Homo sapiens: one gene and its partners. The protein of the gene in region 1 interacts with the protein of each later gene in a biochemical or structural test. Each region holds a gene or a part of one and is shown on either strand. Other genes may lie near its edges.

Region 1 (3,500 bases):
TATGCTGGATGGATAGATAACTTTTGAAACAAAATATTTAATGCATTTTAAATGGTAGAAGGAAGAATGGTTAGATATTTGGCCCAATGTAAAAATCCCTGCTGTTTAAAAATACTTGTTTTTTTTTGTAGTCCTTCTTTACAGTTTGAAGCTGCATGGGCTTTGACAAACATTGCATCTGGAACTTCTGAACAAACTCAAGCAGTAGTTCAGTCCAGTAAGTTGGTTATTAATAAACATAATTGTGATTTTTTTTAAAAGAAGTCGGTAAAAAATAGTGATCTTCCCAAAAGACTATGGCAATTTAAATTATAAAATAATAGCTACTACGTAGTTATTGAAATAGGTCAACTTAAGTATGTTACTTTAATCTTCTTATTCTGGTGACTGATGTTTTTTGTATTTCCAAAAATTCACTTGATTCCTTTCTAAATATGAGAACATTTCCTAATTATAGTAGCAGATTACATTATTATTGTTACACTTTATTTATAGGACATCAGTAGAAATAAAGGAGTTTTTCCTGTTGCCACATTGCCTCTCAGCCTCTCTTTTTTTGTTTTTGTTTTTTTGTTGTTGTTGTTTTTCTTTCTCAGACAAGATCTTACTCTTTTGGCCAGGCTGGAATACAATGGCACAATCTCAGCTCACTGTAGCCTCGGCCTCCCAGGCTCAAGAGACCCTTCCGCATCAGTCCACCAAGTAGCTGGGACTACAGGCATGTGCCACTGTGCCTAGCTAATTTTTGTAATATTTTTGTGTTTTTTGTAGAGACAGGGTTTCACCATGTTGCCCAGGCTGGTCTCTAACTCTGGGCTCAAGTGATCAACCTGCTTTGGCCTCCCAGTGTGCTGGGATTATAGGCATGAGCCACCACACCGGGCCTCAGCCTCTCTTAATGAGATTTTTCTCTTTTTTTTTTTTTTTTTTTTTTTTTGAGATGGAGTCTCACTCTGTCGCCCAGGCTGGAGTGCAGTGATGCGATCTCGGCTCACTGCAAGCTCCACCTCCCGGGTTCATGCCATTCTCCTGCTTCCGTCTCCCAAGTACCTGGGGCTACAGGCGCCCACCACCACGCCCGGCTAGTTTTTTGTATTTTTAGTAGAGACGGGGTTTCACTGTGTTAGCCAGGATGGTCTCGGTCTCGATCTCCTGACCTCATGATCCGCCTGCCTCGGCCTCCCAAAGTGCTGGGATTACAGGTGTGAGCCACCACGCCCGGCCATATCATATATTTTAAAGAAATCTTCTATAAAGTAGTCCTAGTTGAAAGAATGGCTCGAATTTTTTTTTCATTGTTATTATAATAGGATTGCTTTTTTTTGTTTCAAGAAATGTAAGTGGAAAATTATTGGAAGTAAGAACCCGAGTGTATTGTCTTCATGAATAGTATTTGATTGTTCTACCAAACAAAGAAATTAATAATTTTAAAGAAGATACTTTTAAAATCCTCTTTAAATATGTAAGCAGCATACTTCTCTGAGCTTATTAAAAATGTAAGCACTAATTTGTACATTTTGAAGGGGAACAAAGATGTTATCCAAATAATCATTTTACTGTAGACACTTATGTTGTAATATTACTTAGAAAAGATAATTACCTCACATCCTATTAAAACTGGTTTGGTTTTGGGTTCAGGTGGTTTTTATTGTGGTTTTTTGGTTTTGTATAGCTGACTCTTAGGAAAATTTTTGGTTTCATAACAATGTTTTATTCCCTCTCACACTTTTTCCTTTCTGTTATGTATGCTCTCTAAAGATTAGAAAGAGGCTTAGAATTTTTTTGACCCTGCTAGTCTGCTTTAATATACCAAAAATAATAAATAAATAAATAAATGAGGTTGGGCATGGTGGCTCATGCCAGTAATTCTAGCACTTAGGGAGGCTGAGGCAGGCAGATTACTGGAGTCCAGGAGCTAGAGACCAGCCTGGGCAACATGGTAAAACCCCATCTCTACAAAATGCAGGAAAAAAAAATTAGCCGGGCTTGGTGGCATGCACCTATAGTCCCAACAACCCAGGAGGCTGAGGTAGGAGGATCACTTAAGCCAGGGGAGGTCAAGGCTGCAGTGACCTGTGGTGACACCACTGAACTCCAGTCTGGGCAGCAGAGTAAGGCACTATCTCAAAAACAAACCCATAAGTGAATTACCTTTTATGATATTACAAGCATGATTGAGCTACATATACTTAAATAGTGCTTTTTAAAGTAATATCAGAAGGAAAGAAGAAGAATCATTTGTTCAGTGCAGTATTTTGTTCAGATACAGACCTATCTCTGTTTCCCATCCTGTTGAGTAACAGAATCACTTTCTGATTCGGAAGATCCCACATGGCCCAGGAATCACTGGCCTGTCTTAAAGACCCACATGTTGTTAACATAAATTTGTGTTCAAAAGTTACTTCAGGCCGGGTGCAGTGGCTCATGCCTGTAATCCCAGCACTTTGGGAGGCCAAGGCAGGCAGATCACTTGAGGTCATGAGTTTGAGACCAGCCTGGCCAATACGGTGAAACCCTGTCGCTACTAAAAATACAAAAATTAGCCAGGCATGGTGGCTCACACCTGCAGTCCTAGCTACTTGGGAGGGTGAGGCAGGAGAATCACTGAAGCTTGGGAGGCAGAGGTTGCAGTGAGCCAAGATTCCACCGCTTCCCTCCAGCCTGGATGACAGAGTGAGACTCCGTCTCAAAAAAACAAAAAAAAAGTTACTTCAATAATGTACTTTTTTTTTTCAAACTACAGATAATCTATAAGGAATTAATCTTGAAATTAATTCCAGGTTTAATTGTTAATGAAATTTCACAAGCCTAATTTAACACTTGTCTGGATAACTCATTTTGATACTGAGTAAATAGTCACTGGTCAAAATTCTTCCAATGATGCTATTCCAATAAAATTCATTTAATGAGGTTATATTTTAAGTATATTTTTATAGGTTCCCTTTTTTTTGAGGTCTCAGCAAAAAAATAAAGATTGATTTTTGGTTTATGGTATCTTCAACCTTAAGTATTGTTATTTTTTCTTCCATCAGATGCTGTGCCACTTTTCCTGAGGCTTCTCCATTCACCCCATCAGAATGTCTGTGAGCAAGCAGTGTGGGCATTGGGAAATATCATAGGTTTGTATAAAACTTGTAATACTAGTCTAAAAATTGTTATCATATACTAAGTAATAAAAATAGCTACTAGTAATCCAAAAGAGAAAACAGTTTGCCTTCAGTACTAGTTTTTGTGAAATAGCTTACAGAAATTTGAACTGTATTACTGTAAAAGCATAAAGTCATAGTAAATAGAATTTTTGTTGCTTAAGATACCATTTTTTTGGTATATAGTTAGCTCTTAATTATTTGAATAATTATGCAAGATGTATACAATTTAGACCTTCTGTCTCATGCTAGGATCCATTTTTTCTTCCCCTAACCCCCATGTTGATCAGTGGGGTCCCTTTTTATTTCTCAGCTTTCTCCATCAAAGAAAGTAACAAGAAAAAAGACAAAACT
Region 2 (3,728 bases), on another chromosome or scaffold:
TCACAGTCCCTGCCAGGTCTGTGGGTGCCCACCCTCCATCTATTGTGCTGTGTGTCCCTGCCCTCTCCTGGGGGTGTCATGGATGGGCCAGTGGGTCTGCCTGCCTGGCCCCTAGGACCATATCAGCCTCGGGCAGCCCCCACTTGGTGGAATCTGGGTCAGTTCTGAGGTGCCCTGGCCTGGAGCCCTTCTACTACCCTAAAGAGGGCCTTCTTGTTGGGAGGGGCTGCTAGCCAGAGCCCAGGTTACTGGCCCCACACCCCATTTCAGGAGGTATCCTGCATGTCCCTCCCCAAGGCCAGGATGGAGAGTTGTTGGTTGACCACTGCACTCCTGTGATCACCGCACCCCTGCACTCTCCTCCTCGGCTTTCTCAGCCCCTGGCCTCCAGAACCGCCTATGCCCCTACCTGGGCTACTCAGGGTAGACAAGACCTTTAGCAGGGAGTCCCCTCACCTCCACTGCCCTCTGTCCTTCACCCCAGGGCCTTCTGTGGGGTTACTGGCTACTGGCTCCTCTCTAAACCCCAGTTTCCACGGGGTAGCTAGGATTGTCCCTGGCTTTATAAGGATAGCCAGGCCTCGGTGTGGGCGGGAGAGTGGGGAAAGTATTTGGAATCGGGAAGTCCATCTCTAGGGCTGATCCAGGGACTCTGGGTGGCAGGGCCTGGTCAGAAAGGGTTCATGCTGGCCTCCAGGCTGTATTTGTGGGGGCAGATCCTCACCAGAGTGAGTGGGGTGGGTCAGTACTAGGCCCCTCCACTGCCTTGCCTGCCATCAGAGCCCAGGGGTCCCTTATTGAGAAAGAGGTGGGGCCTGCTGGCACCGGGGTCCCTCCACCCTGCTGAAAGGGTCTCCTGGCTGCATCGCAGCTAACATCCCTTCCTTCCTGTCGGGCAGCCAGAGCAGCTGAGTTCCAGATAAAAACTGTCAGACCCGGCCTGTAGGCTGCTCCATTGCCAATGAACTCCATGAACCCCATGAAACCTGCCCTGCCCCCTGCGCCACACGGGTGAGTGTGGGCTCCTCTGCCCACCCCTCAGGCCCTGGGGTTGGGGGTGGCATTTCTGGAAGATCCTAGACTCTTGGACACCAGTGGCTTCCTGACCCAGGCCTCAGCAGCCTCTTTCCCTGCAGTGATGGTTCATTCGCATATGAGTCTGTGCCTTGGCAACAAAGCGCCACTCAGCCGGCTGGATCGCTGTCTGTGGTCACTACTGTGTGGGGAGTTGGCAACGCGACACAGAGCCAGGTAAGCACCCACTGGTGCCCCACCCCCGAGCAGACAGAGCCTCCCAGCACTTGGCAGTGCTTAGTGCCTCCTCAGAGCTCTGAGAGACGAAGAGGCTGAGAGGTGAGGACAGAGAGGCTGAGGCATGACATATGAGGATGGGGCCTCCTGAGTCCCCTAAGTCTTTGGACACTGGTTCTCTTTCCACACCTGCTGTGGGATTTTCTTCTCCTGTCTTCACCTAGCCTTCACAAAATGCCCCAACCTCCCTGTGGACAGCTGCTTTCCCTGCTTCCCGTGCTATACCCTGTCCCCCCCACCTCTCCCCCAACCCACTTGCCAGGCCTGTTGGTTTCTAGCACTTTGGAGCTGCTGCATGAAGCACGTTGTTTGGCTGGTTCCCTTTGGTGATTCCTGCTTCCTCATAGGTTTTGGGGAACCCCATGGGCCCTGCAGGGAGTCCCTCTGGCAGCTCCATGATGCCTGGTGTGGCAGGGGGCAGCTCCGCCTTGACCTCCCCACAGTGCCTGGGACAGCAGGCGTTTGCTGAAGGCGGCGCCAACAAGGGCTACGTGCAGCAAGGCGTGTACAGCCGCGGGGGCTACCCTGGGGCCCCCGGCTTCACCACCGGGTAAGCAAGTTCCCTCACCTGGCAGGTATGCTAGGAGCCATCAATCTGGCAGGCACCTCAGAACTGTGGCGCTGATCAGCTGGACGTTCCCTCTCTGCTTCCTGACAGCTGTAGTGGAGGGTCTAGAAAGAATGGGCTCCCCCTGGGTGCTGCATGCCTCTGGGGTGAGCACAGTCCTGGCCCTCATGAGCCCACGCAGAGAGCGTGGCAATCCTGTGTCTCCTGCAGGTATGCAGGCGGCCCGGGGGGCCTGGGCCTCCCCTCACATGCTGCAAGACCCTCCACTGACTTCACGCAAGCGGCAGCTGCTGCAGCTGTGGCTGCTGCGGCAGCCACTGCCACCGCCACAGCCACAGCCACCGTGGCTGCTCTCCAGGAGAAGCAGAGCCAGGAGCTGAGCCAGTATGGAGCGGTGAGCCCCCTCAGCAGCTCCTCCCACATGGCAGCCAGCCTGAGGGCCTGGGAGGAGGTACTCAGCCAGACAGTGGGCTCCAGGGACAAGCATGGAATATGCCAGGGCTCATGAAGCCAGTAAAAGAGAGATGTGTGGGAAGGAGTGAGGGTCTGAGGGGAGAGGTTTCTGGGGTGTCCTGTGAAAGGGTATGGTGCCCACATGGGTGGGTGGGCGGGTTTTATGCCTATCTTTTGGAGCCCTTTGTGGGTGGGACCTGGACCATTCTTCTTTTTTCTCTTCCTAGATGGGGGCCGGACAGTCTTTTAACAGCCAGTTTCTGCAGCATGGAGGTCCCCGGGGGCCTAGTGTCCCCGCTGGCATGAACCCTACTGGCATAGGAGGGGTAATGGGCCCCTCTGGCCTCTCCCCCTTGGCTATGAACCCCACCCGGGCAGCAGGAATGACACCCTTGTATGCAGGGCAGCGTCTGCCCCAACATGGGTATCCTGGGCCTCCCCAGGCCCAGCCACTGCCCCGACAGGGGGTCAAGAGAACCTACTCTGAGGTGAGTGTCCAGGTCACCTAGTTTGGGGCCTTGGGTACCAACTCCCTCACCCAGGCACTCTTTAGAGCTGTGGTAAAGAGCAGGCTTCTGGCTGGGCATGGTGGCTCACGCCTGTAGTCCCTGCACTTTGGGAAACCAAGGAGGGTGGATCCCTTGAGCTCAGGAGTTTGAGACCAGCCTGGGCAACATGGCGAAACCGTGTCTCTACAAAAATTAGCCTGGTGTGGTGGCATGTGGCTGTAGTCATAGCTACTTGGGAGGCAGAGGTGGGAGGATCGCCTGAACCCAGAAAGTTGAGGGTGCAGTTAGCTGTGATCGCTCCCCTGCACTTCAGGCTGGGCAACAGGAGTGAGACCCTGTTTCAAAAAAAAAAAAAAAAAGCAAAAGCCGGGCATGCTGTCTCATGCCTGTAATCCCAACACTTTGGGAGGCTGAGGCAGGTGGATCACTTGAGATCAGGAGTTCAAGACCAGCCTGGCCAATGTGGTGAAACCGCATGTCTACTAATAATAGAAAAAATTAGGCCGGGCGCGGTGGCTCACGCCTGTAATCTCAGCACTTTGGGAGGCCAAGGCGGGTGGATCACGAGGTCAGGAGTTGAAGACCAGCCTGGCCAGCATGGTGAAACCCCATCTCTAATAAAAATACAAAAAGCATTAGCCGGGTGTGGTGGCGGGCGCCTGCAGTCCCAGCTACTTGGGAGGCTGAGGCAGGAGAATTGCTTGAACCCAGCAGGCAGAGGTTGCAGTGAGCTGAGATCATGCCACTGCACTCCAGCCTGGGTGACAGAATAAGACTCCATCTCAAAAAAAAAAAAAAAAAAATTAGCCGGGCGTGGTGGTGTGCACCTGTAATTCCAGCTACTTGGGAGGCTGAGGCAGGAGAATTGCTTGAACCCAGGAGGTGGA
Region 3 (2,923 bases), on another chromosome or scaffold:
TATTCTCAGAAAAGGTGTGCCTGGCCCTCTCGGTAAAGAGGCCAGGCTGGCTGGGCCGGGTGTGGTGGCTCACACCTGTAATCCCAGCACTTTGGGAGGCCGAGGCAGGCGGATCACGAGGGCAAGAGATCGAGACCATCTTGGCCAACATGGTGAAACCCCATCTCTACTAAAAATACAAAAATTGGCCGGGCGTGGTGGCTCATGCCTGTAATCCCAGCACTTTGGGACGCCCAGGCGGGCAGATCACGAGGTCAGGAGATTGAGATTGTCCTGGCTAACACGGTGAAACCCTGTCTCTACTAAAAATACAAAAAATTAGCCGGGCGTGGTTGCAGGCGCCTGTAGTCCCAGCTACTCGGGAGGCTGAGCCAGGAGAATGGCCTGAACCTGGGAGGCAGAGCTTGCAGTGAGCAGAGATTGCACCACTGCACTCCAGCCTGGGCGACAGAGCGAGCCTCCATCTCAACAATAACAACAAAAAAATACAAAAATTAGCTGGGCATGGTGGCGCACACTTGTAGTCCCAGCTACTCGGGAGGCTGAGACAGGAGAATCACTTGAACCTAGGAGGTGGAGGTTGTAGTGAGCCGAGATTGCGCCACTGTACTCTAGCCTGGCAACAGAGCAAGAGTCCATCTCAAAAAAAAAAAAAAAAAAAAAAAGAGGCCGGGCTGTTGGCCGGGGTGGTGGCTCACATCTGTAATCCCAGCACTTTGGGAGGCCAAGGCGGGTGGATCACCTGAGGTCAGGAGTTCAAGACCAGCCTGGCCAACATGGTGAAACCTTGTCTCTACTAAAATATATATATATATATATATATATATATACAAAAATTAGCCAGGCATGGTGGCACACCCCTGTAGTCCCGGCCACTCAGGAGGCTGAGGCACGAGAATAGCTTGAACCCAGGAGCGAGAGGTTGCAGTGAGCCAAGATTGTGCCACTGCACTCCAGCTTGGGTGACAGACCAAGTCTCTGTCTCAGAAGAAAAAAAAAAAAAAAAAAGAGGCTGGGCTGAGTGGTGTTTCTCTCCTGCAGGCTGCCGTGGGGTGTGTGTAGGCTTCAGAGACATGGGATCACGGAAGACTGAAGCAGAAACAGTGGATTAAGACTTCCTGAGCGATAGCTGGTGAGTAGTGGGATGTGCAAGAGAATTCCACCTCCCCTTGGTTTCCTGCTGTCTCACTGGCTCCTGCCCCTCTTTCTCCAGGCACTGCCTTCCCCACAATGGCAGAGGTGGTGGCTGAGGTGGCCGAGATGCCAACACAGATGTCACCAGGGGCAGTGGAGATGTCAACACCTATGTCGGCAGAGATGATGGAGATGTCAACAGAAGTGACTGAGATGACACCTGGGGAGGCCCTTGCCTCATCCCTCTTCTTCCAGCATCACCAGTTCATGTGCTCTGAGTGTGGCAGCCTCTATAACACACTGGAGGAAGTCCTCTCACACCAGGAGCAGCACATGCTTGCTGTCTCAGAGGAGGAGGCACTGACCACACAGAATGTTGGCCTGGAGCCGGAGCTGGTGCCGGGTGCTGAGGGGCCCTTCCAGTGTGGTGAATGCAGCCAGCTCATCCTCTCCCCTGGGGAGCTCCTGGCCCACCAGGATGCCCACCTCCGAGAGTCTGCAAACCAGATCCAATACCAGTGCTGGGACTGCCAGGAGCTGTTCCCCTCGCCCGAGCTGTGGGTGGCTCATCGAAAGGCCCAGCACCTTTCTGCTACGGTAGCTGAGCCACCAGTGCCACCTCCTTTGCCTCCCCCAACACCACTGCCTCCACCTTCTCCCCCATCCGAAGTCAAGATGGAGCCCTATGAGTGTCCTGAGTGCTCTACCCTCTGCGCCACCCCTGAGGAGTTCTTGGAGCATCAGGGCACCCACTTTGACTCCCTAGAGAAAGAGGAGCGCAATGGGTTGGAGGAGGAGGAAGAGGACGATGAGGAGGATGAAGAAGATGATGAAGAGATGGAGGATGAGGAGGCCATGGCAGAGGTCGGTGATGATGCTGTGGGAGGTGACGAGTCCACAGCTGGCTGGGCTCAGGGCTGCGGGGACTGTCCCCAGCACCAGCCCTCAGCAGGGGCTCGCCGGCAACACCGGCGGACGGCTCACAGCCCGGCATCTGCCACCCACCCCTTCCACTGCAGCCAGTGTCAGCGCAGTTTCAGCTCCGCCAACCGGCTGCAGGCTCATGGGCGGGCCCATGTTGGTGGCACACATGAGTGTACAACCTGCTCCAAGGTCTTCAAGAAAGCAGCATCGCTTGAGCAGCACTTGCGGCTGCATCGCGGGGAAGCCCGCTACCTCTGTGTAGACTGTGGCCGCGGCTTTGGCACAGAACTCACGTTGGTGGCTCACCGGCGGGCCCACACTGCCAACCCATTGCATCGCTGTCGTTGCGGCAAGACGTTCAGCAACATGACCAAGTTCCTCTACCACCGGCGCACTCACGCCGGCAAAAGCGGGGCACCTCCCACAGGAGCAACAGCTCCCCCAGCTCCAGCGGAGCCCACCCCTCCACCACCACCCCCTGCCCCACCTGCCCAGCTGCCCTGCCCACAGTGCTCCAAGTCCTTTGCCTCAGCTTCCCGGCTGTCCCGGCACCGGCGTGCAGTACACGGGCCCCCTGAACGGCGTCACCGCTGTGGGGTTTGTGGCAAGGGCTTCAAGAAGCTGATCCACGTGCGCAACCACCTGCGGACACACACGGGTGAGAGGCCCTTCCAGTGCCACTCATGTGGCAAGACCTTTGCTTCTTTGGCCAACCTCAGCCGCCACCAGCTGACCCATACGGGTGCACGTCCCTACCAATGCCTGGACTGTGGCAAGCGCTTCACACAGAGCTCCAACCTGCAGCAGCACCGGCGGTTGCACTTGCGGCCAGTCGCCTTTGCCCGCGCCCCCCGCCTCCCCATCA

Evidence for each region.
Region 2: the proteins of KPNA4 (region 1) and ZMIZ2 interact in a test that uses a peptide from one of them, tested with the Homo sapiens proteins (one study listed by BioGRID).
Region 3: the proteins of KPNA4 (region 1) and ZNF526 interact in a biophysical measurement, tested with the Homo sapiens proteins (one large-scale study listed by IntAct).

The regions. Positions count from the first base shown.
Region 1 is NC_000003.12:160,527,572-160,531,071, reverse strand, and holds part of KPNA4 (importin subunit alpha-3), read left to right. Parts: intron 1-131; coding exon 132-217; intron 218-3,032; coding exon 3,033-3,119; intron 3,120-3,500. UniProt on the Homo sapiens protein: Functions in nuclear protein import as an adapter protein for nuclear receptor KPNB1. Binds specifically and directly to substrates containing either a simple or bipartite NLS motif.
Region 2 is NC_000007.14:44,755,289-44,759,016, forward strand, and holds part of ZMIZ2 (zinc finger MIZ domain-containing protein 2), read left to right. Parts: intron 1-899; 5' UTR 900-961; coding exon 962-1,011; intron 1,012-1,136; coding exon 1,137-1,251; intron 1,252-1,658; coding exon 1,659-1,861; intron 1,862-2,089; coding exon 2,090-2,273; intron 2,274-2,559; coding exon 2,560-2,820; intron 2,821-3,728. UniProt on the Homo sapiens protein: Increases ligand-dependent transcriptional activity of AR and other nuclear hormone receptors.
Region 3 is NC_000019.10:42,223,174-42,226,096, forward strand, and holds part of ZNF526 (zinc finger protein 526), read left to right. Parts: intron 1-1,041; 5' UTR 1,042-1,132; intron 1,133-1,213; 5' UTR 1,214-1,230; coding exon 1,231-2,923. UniProt on the Homo sapiens protein: May be involved in transcriptional regulation.